Linked DNA regions of Homo sapiens: all the other regions are linked to region 1. Evidence: fine-mapped expression QTL. A gene starts in region 1. Each other region holds a variant in brackets. All regions are shown on one strand. Distances are between the middles of the regions.

What was found. PIP is the estimated chance that this variant, and not a neighbour inherited with it, causes the effect.
Region 2: its variant is fine-mapped to the expression of PTP4A2 in whole blood (TOPMed, PIP above 0.99).
Region 3: its variant is fine-mapped to the expression of PTP4A2 in whole blood (INTERVAL, PIP above 0.99).
Region 4: its variant is fine-mapped to the expression of PTP4A2 in whole blood (INTERVAL, PIP above 0.99).

What each region holds. Positions count from the first base shown.
Region 1 is chr1:31,936,773-31,939,379 of GRCh38, forward strand. It overlaps PTP4A2 (protein tyrosine phosphatase 4A2), which reads right to left and starts at 1,596. Exons shown (of 6, transcript NM_080391.4): 1 at 1,215-1,596. RefSeq lists enhancers at 753-802, 1,913-2,182 and silencers at 983-1,322, 1,099-1,270, 1,473-1,852.
Region 2 is chr1:31,847,358-31,849,964 of GRCh38, forward strand. No RefSeq gene overlaps it. Among named protein-coding and RNA genes, the nearest start is that of SPOCD1, 33 kb to the left of the region's middle. RefSeq lists an enhancer at 1,429-1,478. The variant A/G (reference allele first, on the strand shown) is at 1,442.
Region 3 is chr1:31,962,960-31,965,566 of GRCh38, forward strand. No RefSeq gene overlaps it. Among named protein-coding and RNA genes, the nearest start is that of PTP4A2, 26 kb to the left of the region's middle. The variant C/T (reference allele first, on the strand shown) is at 1,135.
Region 4 is chr1:31,967,677-31,970,283 of GRCh38, forward strand. No RefSeq gene overlaps it. Among named protein-coding and RNA genes, the nearest start is that of PTP4A2, 31 kb to the left of the region's middle. The variant TTTTTTG/T (reference allele first, on the strand shown) is at 1,240.

The DNA of each region.
Region 1 (2,607 bases):
CTGTATCCTTAATCTCCTTTTGCACACTCAGCAAGGCATAACTTCACTCACTTCCCTCTGAAACTACTCTCTCTTACAGAGCATGACAGCAAGTACCATATTCCAACTCAGCAGTGTAATGTAGTTTGGCGACTCCGGACAGACAAACATTTGCTGAATGCCTACAGTGACACTAGAATTGCTAGTCACTGCTAATTTCTTGACAAATTCCAGGAAATAATAAACCAGACTACAGTTCAATTTACCTAACAATAAAATACTCTTCACCTGAAAAACTAGCAGTACTTTACAAAAGTTTATGCTCCTGAACACTCTACAGGCCAGAGTGTAGGATTTTGGGCAACAGACAAACTTCTTTTCGTTAGCTCTCAGGGGCCCCAGACTAGGATAGGATGGCATCATTGACAAATTTGAAAATTTACTTTGAAGTCATGAAACGTGGGAGAAAAAAATGTATAGAACAACAACAAAAAAACACATCACATCCTTTCTGGGGGAAAAAAATTAAAATCCCAGAGCCAGAAGATCATAGTGCCGCTGGAGGAGACTTATACCCCCTTTCCTCATACTTGAACCTGAAGACCCACGGACAAGATGCTCCCGGAAAGAACTCCCCAACCCAACACACCAGGGTTCACTATCGCCACACACAAAGACCAAGGGGAAGGGCCTCTAGGATGCCTGCTCACACACTGGACACACGCCGGCACACCCTACCACACTCCTGCCTCTGCCACGCACCTTCTCACCGACACACACCATGTTCTCCCCCCACACTCACCCGCTCTTTACCACACTCTCAACTCTCTCCTCCCCCATTTACTCACTCATTCTACCACCACCCCTCATGCCCACACGCTCCCCACACACCCATACCCTCCCCTGCCCTCACCCACATTCCCCCAACATCGACACTGCCTCCCGACGCGCTCCCACTCCCCCCACCTCCTCGCACGGACACTCAGCCCTGTCCCCCACTCACACGCCCTCCCTTCACCAACTCACTCTCCCCCACGCTCGCACAGCTCTCTCCCTTCCACACACACGAGCCCGCCCCTCGCTCACCCACCCTCGCTCCCCCGCCCCGGCCCGGCCCGGCCCTCCTTCCGGGGACGTGTCTCCGGCCTGCACTAATGGCTGCGGCGCCTCCCGCCCTCCCCTTCCCCGAGGCCCCCGGCGCCGGCGCGGGGGCCGCCCGGGAGGGGCGCACTCACGCTGGCGAGCTGGGGACTGGGCATTGAAGTCCGGCGGTGGCGGGAGCGAGGAGGCGCCTCTCTCCTCAGTCACCTCGGCGGCGGCGGCGGCGGCGGTAGCGGTGGCGGCGGCGGCGACGACTCCCCCCCAGCCTCGGCGCGCGACACCCGGCCCGGCCCGGCGGCGGCGGCGGCGGCGCGTCTCCACGAGTCCGTCTTGCTGCTGCTGCTGCGGCCGCCGCTGCGTCTCCTGCTGCCGCCGCTGCCTCCGCTGCCGCCGCTGCCCTGTGGCGTCACCTCGCGCCGTGCCCGGCCGCCGCTGCCGCTCCAGCCGCTCCCGGACAGACGACGGTTACAGCCCGGCCGATCGCGCCGCCACCACCACCGCTGCGCGCGCAGCCGGAACCAGCTCCCGCCGCCGCCCCTCAGGGGGCGCTGCGGGGCGCGGCGCGCAGGGCCACCGGCCCGCCCTCCGCGTTCGCTGACTGGCTGGCTGGCCGGCTCGCGGGCAGTTGGGCCCGCCCACCTGCCCCGCGGGGCGCTGACCCACTGCCCTGGGCGCCTCCCCCGCTCCTCCTCCTCGTGGTTCGTTCCGCTCCGCACTCCCGGCTACGGAAGGCGAGTCCATGTGATCGGGGAGGGAAGGCAGAACGTGGCCTGGGGAGTCGCTCGCCCACGCTGCGCCCCGCCCATCCGCACCTGGGCTGGGTCGAGGGCCTGCAGCCGAGGTGTGACCTGCAAGGTCGAAGGGTTCTTTCTCGCTACTTGGCCCTAAGGCCTCGGGTCAGATCCTGATGGGACGGGGTGGCCGCCACGTCCTGGGCTTGGGGATTTCCAACTCAGAAGTGGGAACCTGGCCAGCTCAGTTCTCGGCTGCCCTTCCTGAGGCCCCAAATGAATGGCGTGTGCATCTTCGTCGAAGATATTAATACGCCACCCCCAGCTCTGCCCACAAGACACACACCCACCCTAAGAACTGTCCCTGACAAGCCAAAATTCAGACTTTCAGGATGTAGGATCTTGGGCAAGTGATTCCAAGTATTATCAACTATTAAATGGAAATAATAATCAGCTACCTCATGGGCTCTTTCACGTATCGATAACAACGTATGAAAACGCTTGAGAAGGGCCAGGCGCGGTGGCTCATACCTGTAATCCCAGTACTTTGGGAGGCCGAGGAGGGCAGATCACAAGGTCAGGAGTTCGAGACCAGCCTGGCCAACATAGTGAAACCCTGTGTCTGCTAAAAATACAAAAATTAGCTGGGCATGGTGGCGCCCGCCCGGAAGGAGGGCCGTAATCCCAGCTACTCGGGAGGTTGAGGCAGGAGACTCACTTGAACCCGGGAGGCGGAGTTTGCAGTGAGCCGAGATCGTGCCACTGCACTCCAACCTGGGCGACAGAGTGAGACTCC
Region 2 (2,607 bases), 89 kb before region 1:
GGGAGGAGGGAGGGGGACTGGGAGGAGGGCACGCCAGGGAGATCCCCAGAGGGGAGGTGGAACCAGTAGGCACATCACTCAGGGCCTTTCAGGCCATCATAAAGGCGCTTTGGTTTTGCTTAGAAACTGGAAGCCACTGAAGGGATTTATTATTTAGATTAAAAAAGCAGAATGTAAAATCAAAGTATAGGATGCTATATTGAAAAAGTCATTTTAAAAGGTTGAAAGGGAATCATCAAAATTGACCACAGCTGCCGAGTTAGGGTGAAGGGATTATGAATTTTTTCCTCTATCCAACTTAATGTTTCTGTGTTGCACGTTTGTGATTAAAATATGTTTCTAAGAGTTTTTAAAGTTGTGGTGGGTTTTGTTTTGTTTTGTTTTGTCTTGAAAAACTGACTCTCGATAGGAAGGCAGAAAACTATTATGAGGGGCCGGGCACAGTGGCTCACGCCTGTAATCCCAGCACTTTGGGAGGCCGAGGCAGGCAGATCACTTGAGGTCACGAGTTCAAGACCAGCCTGGCCAACCTGGCAAAACCCCGTCTCTACCAAAAATACAAAACTTAGCCGGGCATGGTGGTGTGCGCCTGTAATCCCAGCTACTTGGGAGGCTGAGACAGGAGAATTGCTTAAACCTGGGAGGCGGAGGTTGCAGTGAGCCAAGATTCCACCACTGCACTCCGGCCTGGGTGACAGAGCGAGACTCCATCAAAAAAGAAAAGAAAAAGAAAACTATTGTGAAGGAGGAGGAGGTGTGCAAAAAGCAATGGAGTTAGAGGCAGGTGGAGGGTGGGGCCAGGACCGAGACAGAAGTGGGGCCAGGGGTAGGGAAACTGGTACAGAGGTCGGGGGGAGGGAGAGAGGGGGACACTGAGGCAGACAGAGAGATGGGAAAAGTGAGACCAAGAGAAGCAGAGGTGAGAAATAGGGAGAGACAGAGACCAGGACAAGGGCAGGGGCCCGTGGAGGAGGCCACCTCCATGGTACTCCCTTCAGGACCTCAACACCCCATCAACCTCTCGAGACCCCTGTAAGATCCACGGGCCCAGGTGCCTGATCTAGGCAGCCCAGCAATGGCCCATCCTCCAGCCCCACTCCAGCATCTCAGGGTCTGGGAACTCAGGAGCCATCGGTGCTGCTTGGATGACCTTAAGCAGGGAAGTGGCATGACCAAGCTCAAGTGTCACAGAGCCCCTGTCTGCGAGGAGGAAATGGGTTGGGTCCAGGAAAACCACTCTGAGAAATATCGGGTACTTCTAAGAGCAAGGCAGGGCTACAAAGCGCTTTCATATCACCTGCGCGCACACACATGTGTGCACACACGCACACCCACACGTCTTGGGGGGGGGGGCACACATTCGTTACAGCCCACACAGAGAAATTCCAGTATGTGGTAAGGGCCAGAGCTCTTACATCTGCTGGAGGCAGCCAGCAAGGCC[A/G]GAAGTGCACCTGCAGCAGGAACTCATCTGCTGAGACACTGTACAGACCCTGGTGGGGCGCTCCTCACACCTGCTTGGCCCAGTTGACTCAGGGCATCCAGGGGGGACAGTTGCATGCACCCTGCTTGAACCCCATTTCAAATGCGCCCTGCAGCTTCCCTCAGCTTTTCTGCCTCCGGGCTTTCTCCTTAGCTGCAGAAGGCCACTCAACCCTCCAGCAGACACAGCTTGGAAGTCCAGGAAGCTGATGTCCCTGCGGCAGCCCTCAGCAATGAGGGACTGGAATCATGGATAAATGCGTCAGCTTTCCTACCTTCTGTGGAACAATTCTGAGGGTATTCCTCATGGTTTCTCTGAGGGGCCCCAGCAGGATATGCCCAGTTGCCTACAGTGGGAACCAGCTCAGAGAACACCCTCGTTGAAGGAATCATTGGTCCTGTGGAGCCCCACGGCCTGGGTGTGTCTACTTGCCTCTTTGCGGTATCATTTACTTGCTTCTCCATCCCCTATATTTCCTGTAGATAGAAGTCCGGCCTCAGGTTCAACTCTTCTGGCAAGGCACCAGAGCAGGCACTGTTGGTGTCCCACCATGTCCCATGGGCCAGTGCTGGAGGCCACCTGCAGACCTTCTGAGTCTTGCAACCTGAGGGCATTTTCTGCTCCTGAGAAGAGCCAGGGAGTTAACAACCCCGAGCAGCCTTTGACTAGCGTTGGGTGGAGATTGGTGGCTAAATAGCCCAGCTTCCTCGCCTCTCTAGGGAAGGTTTCCGACATGTTCTGTATAGCCTTTCAGAGGGTCCCCAGAGGAATGGAGCTCCAGTTCCCGGAGTAAAGACCCACTCATTAATTCACTTTTTATTGGCTTTCTGCCTTTCCCTGCCTCACTTCCCTATTCTCTTAAAGACGGATGCTTTCTGGGATCATCTTCCAAATAAATCACTTGCACCCCGATCCTTTTCCTAGATACAGTCTGCTTTTTTGGGAAATCCAAACTAAGGCAGCCCGTTCTTAGTTTGTACTGCACGTGACACAACTGTAAGGGTTGTGTACTGCACGTGACTTCACTTCAGGAGATACAAGAGCAGTGCTAGGGTGGGCCCATGGGCTCAGGTGTGACAATCTGATCCCTCCATTATGAAATTCTCCATCAGCCTTTCACATTAATA
Region 3 (2,607 bases), 26 kb after region 1:
TGTTGCTCTCGTACATTTCAGACCCTACACACAGTCTCATGCATTACCTGTCTGGCACAGCATTCATCTTTTCTGCCTCTGGGGTTACTGGGTGGAAAAACTTAAGAAGCATTTATGCAAGTACAAGTCCTGAGGCCTCTAACATTAAAGGTATTTACAAAGATAGATATCCACAACATTTTCCGAGTACAAAATGCAGGTTTCAAAAATATTGCCAAAAAAAGGGCAACCTGCTTGGATCCCCTTCCACGCTGTGGAAGCTTTGTCCTTTCACTCTTCACAATAAACCTTGCTACCGCTCAAAAAAAAATTGCCACAAAAAACTCGAAAAAACAAAAGTATTGCCAAAAATTTGAACAGCGGTTATTTCAGGCCATGACACTTCAGGAGATCTTTCTCTTCTTCTTAGTATTTATTTTTTTCTTTTTTGAGACGGAGTCTTGCTCTGTCGCCCAGGCTGGAGTGCAATGGTGTGATGTTGGCTCACTGCAACATCCGACTCCCAGATTCAAGTGATTCTCCTGCCTCAGCCTCCTGAGAAGCTGGGACTGCAGGTGCATAGCACCACTCCCGGCTAATTTTTGTATTTTTAGTAGAGAGGGTTTCACCATGTCGGCCAGGATGGTCTCGATCTCCTGACCTCGTGATCCTCCCGCCTCAGCCCCCCAAAGTGCTGGGATTACAGGCATGAGCCACCCCGCCTGGCTTCTTCTTTGTACTTTTATGTATTATTTGAAGTTTTTATAATCTGCATACATTATATTTATGAGGAAAAAAAATGAAGCTATTTTCATGAGGAGTCCACCTTGATTTTACTTTCTCCTATATTGTCCTCAAATCACATTCGACCAGATTTCCTCTACCATACCTTCCTTCTTCTTCTTTTGTTTTTGTTTTTGTTTTTTTTGAGACTGAGTTTCACTCTTGTTGCCCAGGTTGGAGTGCAATGGCGCGATCTCCGGCTCACCGCAACCTCAGCCTCCTGGGTTCAAGCGATTCTCCCATCTCAGCCTCCTAAGCAGCTGGGATTACAGGCACCACACCCAACTAATTTTGTATTTTTAGTAGAGACGGGGTTTCTCCATGTTTGTCGGGGTGGTCTGGAACTCCCAACTCCAGGTGATCCGCCCACCT[C/T]GGCCTCCCAAAGTGCTGGGATTACAGGCATGAGCCACCACGACCAGCACATACCTTCATTCTTCAGGAAGAGGAGAATTTACCTGGCTGCCCAGTCCTGCAGGGAGCTACTCCAGACAGACACTCCCTGTATAGGAAGGGCCTTCCATGAGCCTGGCAGAAGCGCTAGGCAGCTCACTACTGTCCTCTTGTGGTCAGAACAGGTCAGAGCTTGATCTAGCAAAATACCGCTCACCCAGTCTACTCTGAAAGTCAAGGTCATCCCCAGAAGTGTGACCTCTGGCTATCCCTGCAGTTAATGTGCTGCACACCAGCATCAGTAGCCCAGCACCCCATCCCAAAACGGGCCATAATCAGGGTTTAGCAGCCTAAGCCTAAAGACTGCAAACCTATCTGAACAATGCTGTCTATTCCAAGCCAGAGACTTTCAGGAGACACTCTTTTCTGACAGCTAGAGCAAGTGATGGAGAGCACGCCTGTCCACTAGAGAGAGCACTCATGGTCAGAACTTGGGGTTTCAGACTGCAGAGAAGGCAAAGTTGCAGGAAAACAACAACAATCATCCTAATCATAAAAGCCCTTGCCCTTGTATGGTTCTTTTTACTTTTCAAAGTATTTCCCAAGGCAATTTGGCATGTCCAAAGAAATTAACACAAGGATGTTTGCTACAGCAAAAGAGAATTTAGGCTGGGCGCCTGTAATCCCAGCATTTTGGGAAGCCGAGGCAGGTGCATCACCTGAGGTTGGGAGTTTGAGAACAGCCTGGCCAACAGGGTAAAACCCTGTTTCTACTAAAAATACAAAAAAATGGCCAGGCATGGTGGCTCACGCCTGTAATCCCAGCACTTTGGGAGGCCGAGGCAGGTGGATCATTTGAGGTCAGTAGTTGGAGAGTAGCCTGGCCAACATGGTGAGACCCCGTCTCTACTAAAAATACAAAAATTAGCTGGGCATGGTGGTACATGCCTGCAATCCCAACTACTCGGGAGGCTGAAGCAGGAGAATTGCTTGAACCCGGGAGGCAGAGGTTGCAGTGTGCCGAGATCGCGCCACTGCACTCCAGCCTGGGTGACAGAGTAAGACTCCGCCCCAAAAAAAACCCCGAAAAAATACAACAAAAAAGCAAAAAAATTAGCTGGGTGTGGTGGCAGGCACCTGTAATCCCAGCTACTCGGGAGGTTGAGGCGAGAGAATCGCTTGAACCTGGGAGGCAGAGGTTGCAGTGAGCTGAGACTGCACCACTGCACTCTACCCTAGATGAGAGAAACTCTGTTTCAAAAAAAAAAAAAACAGAGACAGAATCTAAACATCCTTCAGTAGGACAGTCATTTACTAAAATGGAATAGTATGCAACTGTTTAAAATATTTCTTTATTCCTTTTCCACTCCCACAGCTTCACTTGACTTAACTAGCCTTAAAAAAAAAAAAAAAAGGGTCAGGCACAGTGGCTCACGGCTGAAATTCCATCATTTT
Region 4 (2,607 bases), 31 kb after region 1:
ATTTTTATTTACAATATCATCAAGAAGAATAATATACATAGGAGGAAATTTAACAAAAGAAGTATTATACAAGACTTGGATAGGCACGGTGACTTATGTCTGTAATCCCAGCCCTTTGGGAGGCTGAGGTGGGCAGATCGCTTGAGGCCAGGAGTTCAAGATCAGCATGGGTGATACAGTGAGACCTCGTAGCTACAAAAAAAATTTAAAAATTAGCTGGGCATGGGCTGGGCACAGTGGCTCACCCCCGTAATCCCAGCACTTTGGGAGGCCGAGGCGGATGGATCACGAGGTCAGGAGATCGAGACCATCCTGGCTAACATGGTGAAACCCTGTCTCTATTAAAAATACACAAAATTAGCTGGGTGTGGTGGTGGGCGCCTGTAGTCCCAGCTACTCAGGAGACTGAGGCAGGAGAATGAAACCCGGATGGCAGAGCTTTCAGTGAGCCGAGATCGTGCCACTGCACTCTAGCTTAGGCAACAGAGCAAGACTCCGTCTAAAAAAAAAAAAAATTACCTGGATGTGCACTCCTGTAGTCTCAGCTACTTGGGAGGCTGCGGCGGAGGATGGCTTGAGCATGGGAAGTTGAGGCTGCAGTGAGCCAAGATTGCACCACTGCACTGCAGCTGGGGCGACAGAGCAAGGCTCTGTCTCAAATATAAATAAATAAATAACAAGATTCAGACACTGAAAACTATAAAAATGTTAAAAGACTTTGCGTCTGTTTTTTTTGTTTGTTTGTTTGTTCGTTTGGTTGGTTGGTTGGTTGGTTGGTTGGTTGGTTTTATAGAGAGAGTCTTATTCTGTTGCCCTGGCTGGAGTGCAGTGGTGCTATCACAGCTCACTGCAGCCTCTAACTCCCAAGCTCAAGAGATTCTCCAGCCTCAGCCTCACAAGTAGCTGGGACTACAGGTGTATACCACCAAACCTGGCTAATTTTTTTCATTTTTTGTAGAAACAAAGTCTCACTATGTTGCCCAGGCTGGTCTTAAACTCCTGGGCTCAAATGCTCCTCTCGCCTCCACCTCCTAAAGTGCTAGGATTAGAGGCGTGAGCCTCCGCTCCTGGCCTGTTGAAAGAAATTTAATAAGACCTAAATAAATGGGAAGACATCCCGTGTTCCTATATTGGAATGAACAGATGGCATTCTGGGGAGTAAGATGGCAATACTCCCCAAACTGATCTACATTTTCAGTGCAATTCCTATCAAAATTTCAGCTGGTGTTTTTTTGGGTT[TTTTTTG/T]TTTTTGTTTTTGTTTTTTGCAGAAATTACCAAGCTGATCCTAAAATTCATATGGAAATGCAAGGGACACAGAATAGTCAAAATAATCTTGAAAAAAAATAGTTGGAGAACTCACTGATTTCAAAATTTATACATAGCCAAAGTGATAAAGACAATATGGTACTGACATAAGAATAAATATATAGGCCAGGCGTGGTAGCTCACGCCTGTAATCCCTGCACTGTGGGAGGCCGAGGGTGGGGCAGATCATCTGAGGTCAGGAGTTCGAGACCAGCCGGGCCAACATGGCAAAACCCCATCTCTACTAAAAATACAAAAATTAGCCAGGTGTGGTGGCACATGCCTGTAATCCCAGCTACTCATGAGGCTGAGGTGGGAGAATCTCTTGAACCCGGGAAGTGGAGCTTGCAGTGAGCTGAGATCATACCACTGCACTCCATCCTGGGCAACAGAGTAAGACTCTGTCTCAAAAAAAAAAAAAAAAAAAGAATAAATATATAGATTAATGGAATAGAACTGAAAGTCCAGAAATAAACCTTTACATTTGTGGTCAATTTTGAACAAATGTATGAAAACAATAACTGGATATTCACATGCAAAAAAAATTAAAATGAACCCCTGTTCACACTATATAAACAATTTGATCAAAAATGTAACAGACCTAAATGTAAGAGCTAAAAAAAGCATAATACTCTTAGAAGAAAACATAGGAATCAATCTTCACGACATTGGATTAAGCAATAGTTTCTTAGATATGATACTCAAAAGCACAGACAAAACAAAAAAAAGATAAATTGAACTTTGTAAACATTAAAAACTTTTGTGTTTCAAAGGACACCATCTCTCTCTCTCTTTTTTTTTTTTTTTTTTTGGTTTGAGACAGAGTCTTGCTCTGTCGCTCAGGTTGGAGTACAATGGTGCGATCTTGCCTCACTGCAACCTCCGCCTCCCAGGTTCAAGCAATTCTCATGTCTCAGTCTCCCGAGTAGCTGGGATTACAAGCACCTGCCACCACGCCCAGCTAACTTTTGTACTTTTAGTAGAGACGGGGTTTCACCATGTTGATCAGGCAGGTCTCGAACTCCTGACCTCAGGTGATCCACCTGCTTCAGCCTCCCACAGTGCTGGGATTACAGGCATGAGCCAGTGTGCCCAGCCCATCTCTTGTTTTTAATTTAACTTTTAAGTTCAGGGTTACATGTGCAGGTTTGTTGTATAGGTAAACTTGTGTCATGGGGGTTTGTTGTACAAATTATTTTGTCACCCAGGTATTAAGTCTAGTACCCGTTAGTTATTTTTCCTGATCCTCTTTCTCCTCCCAACCTCCACCTTCCAATAGGCCCCAGCATGTGTTGTTCCATT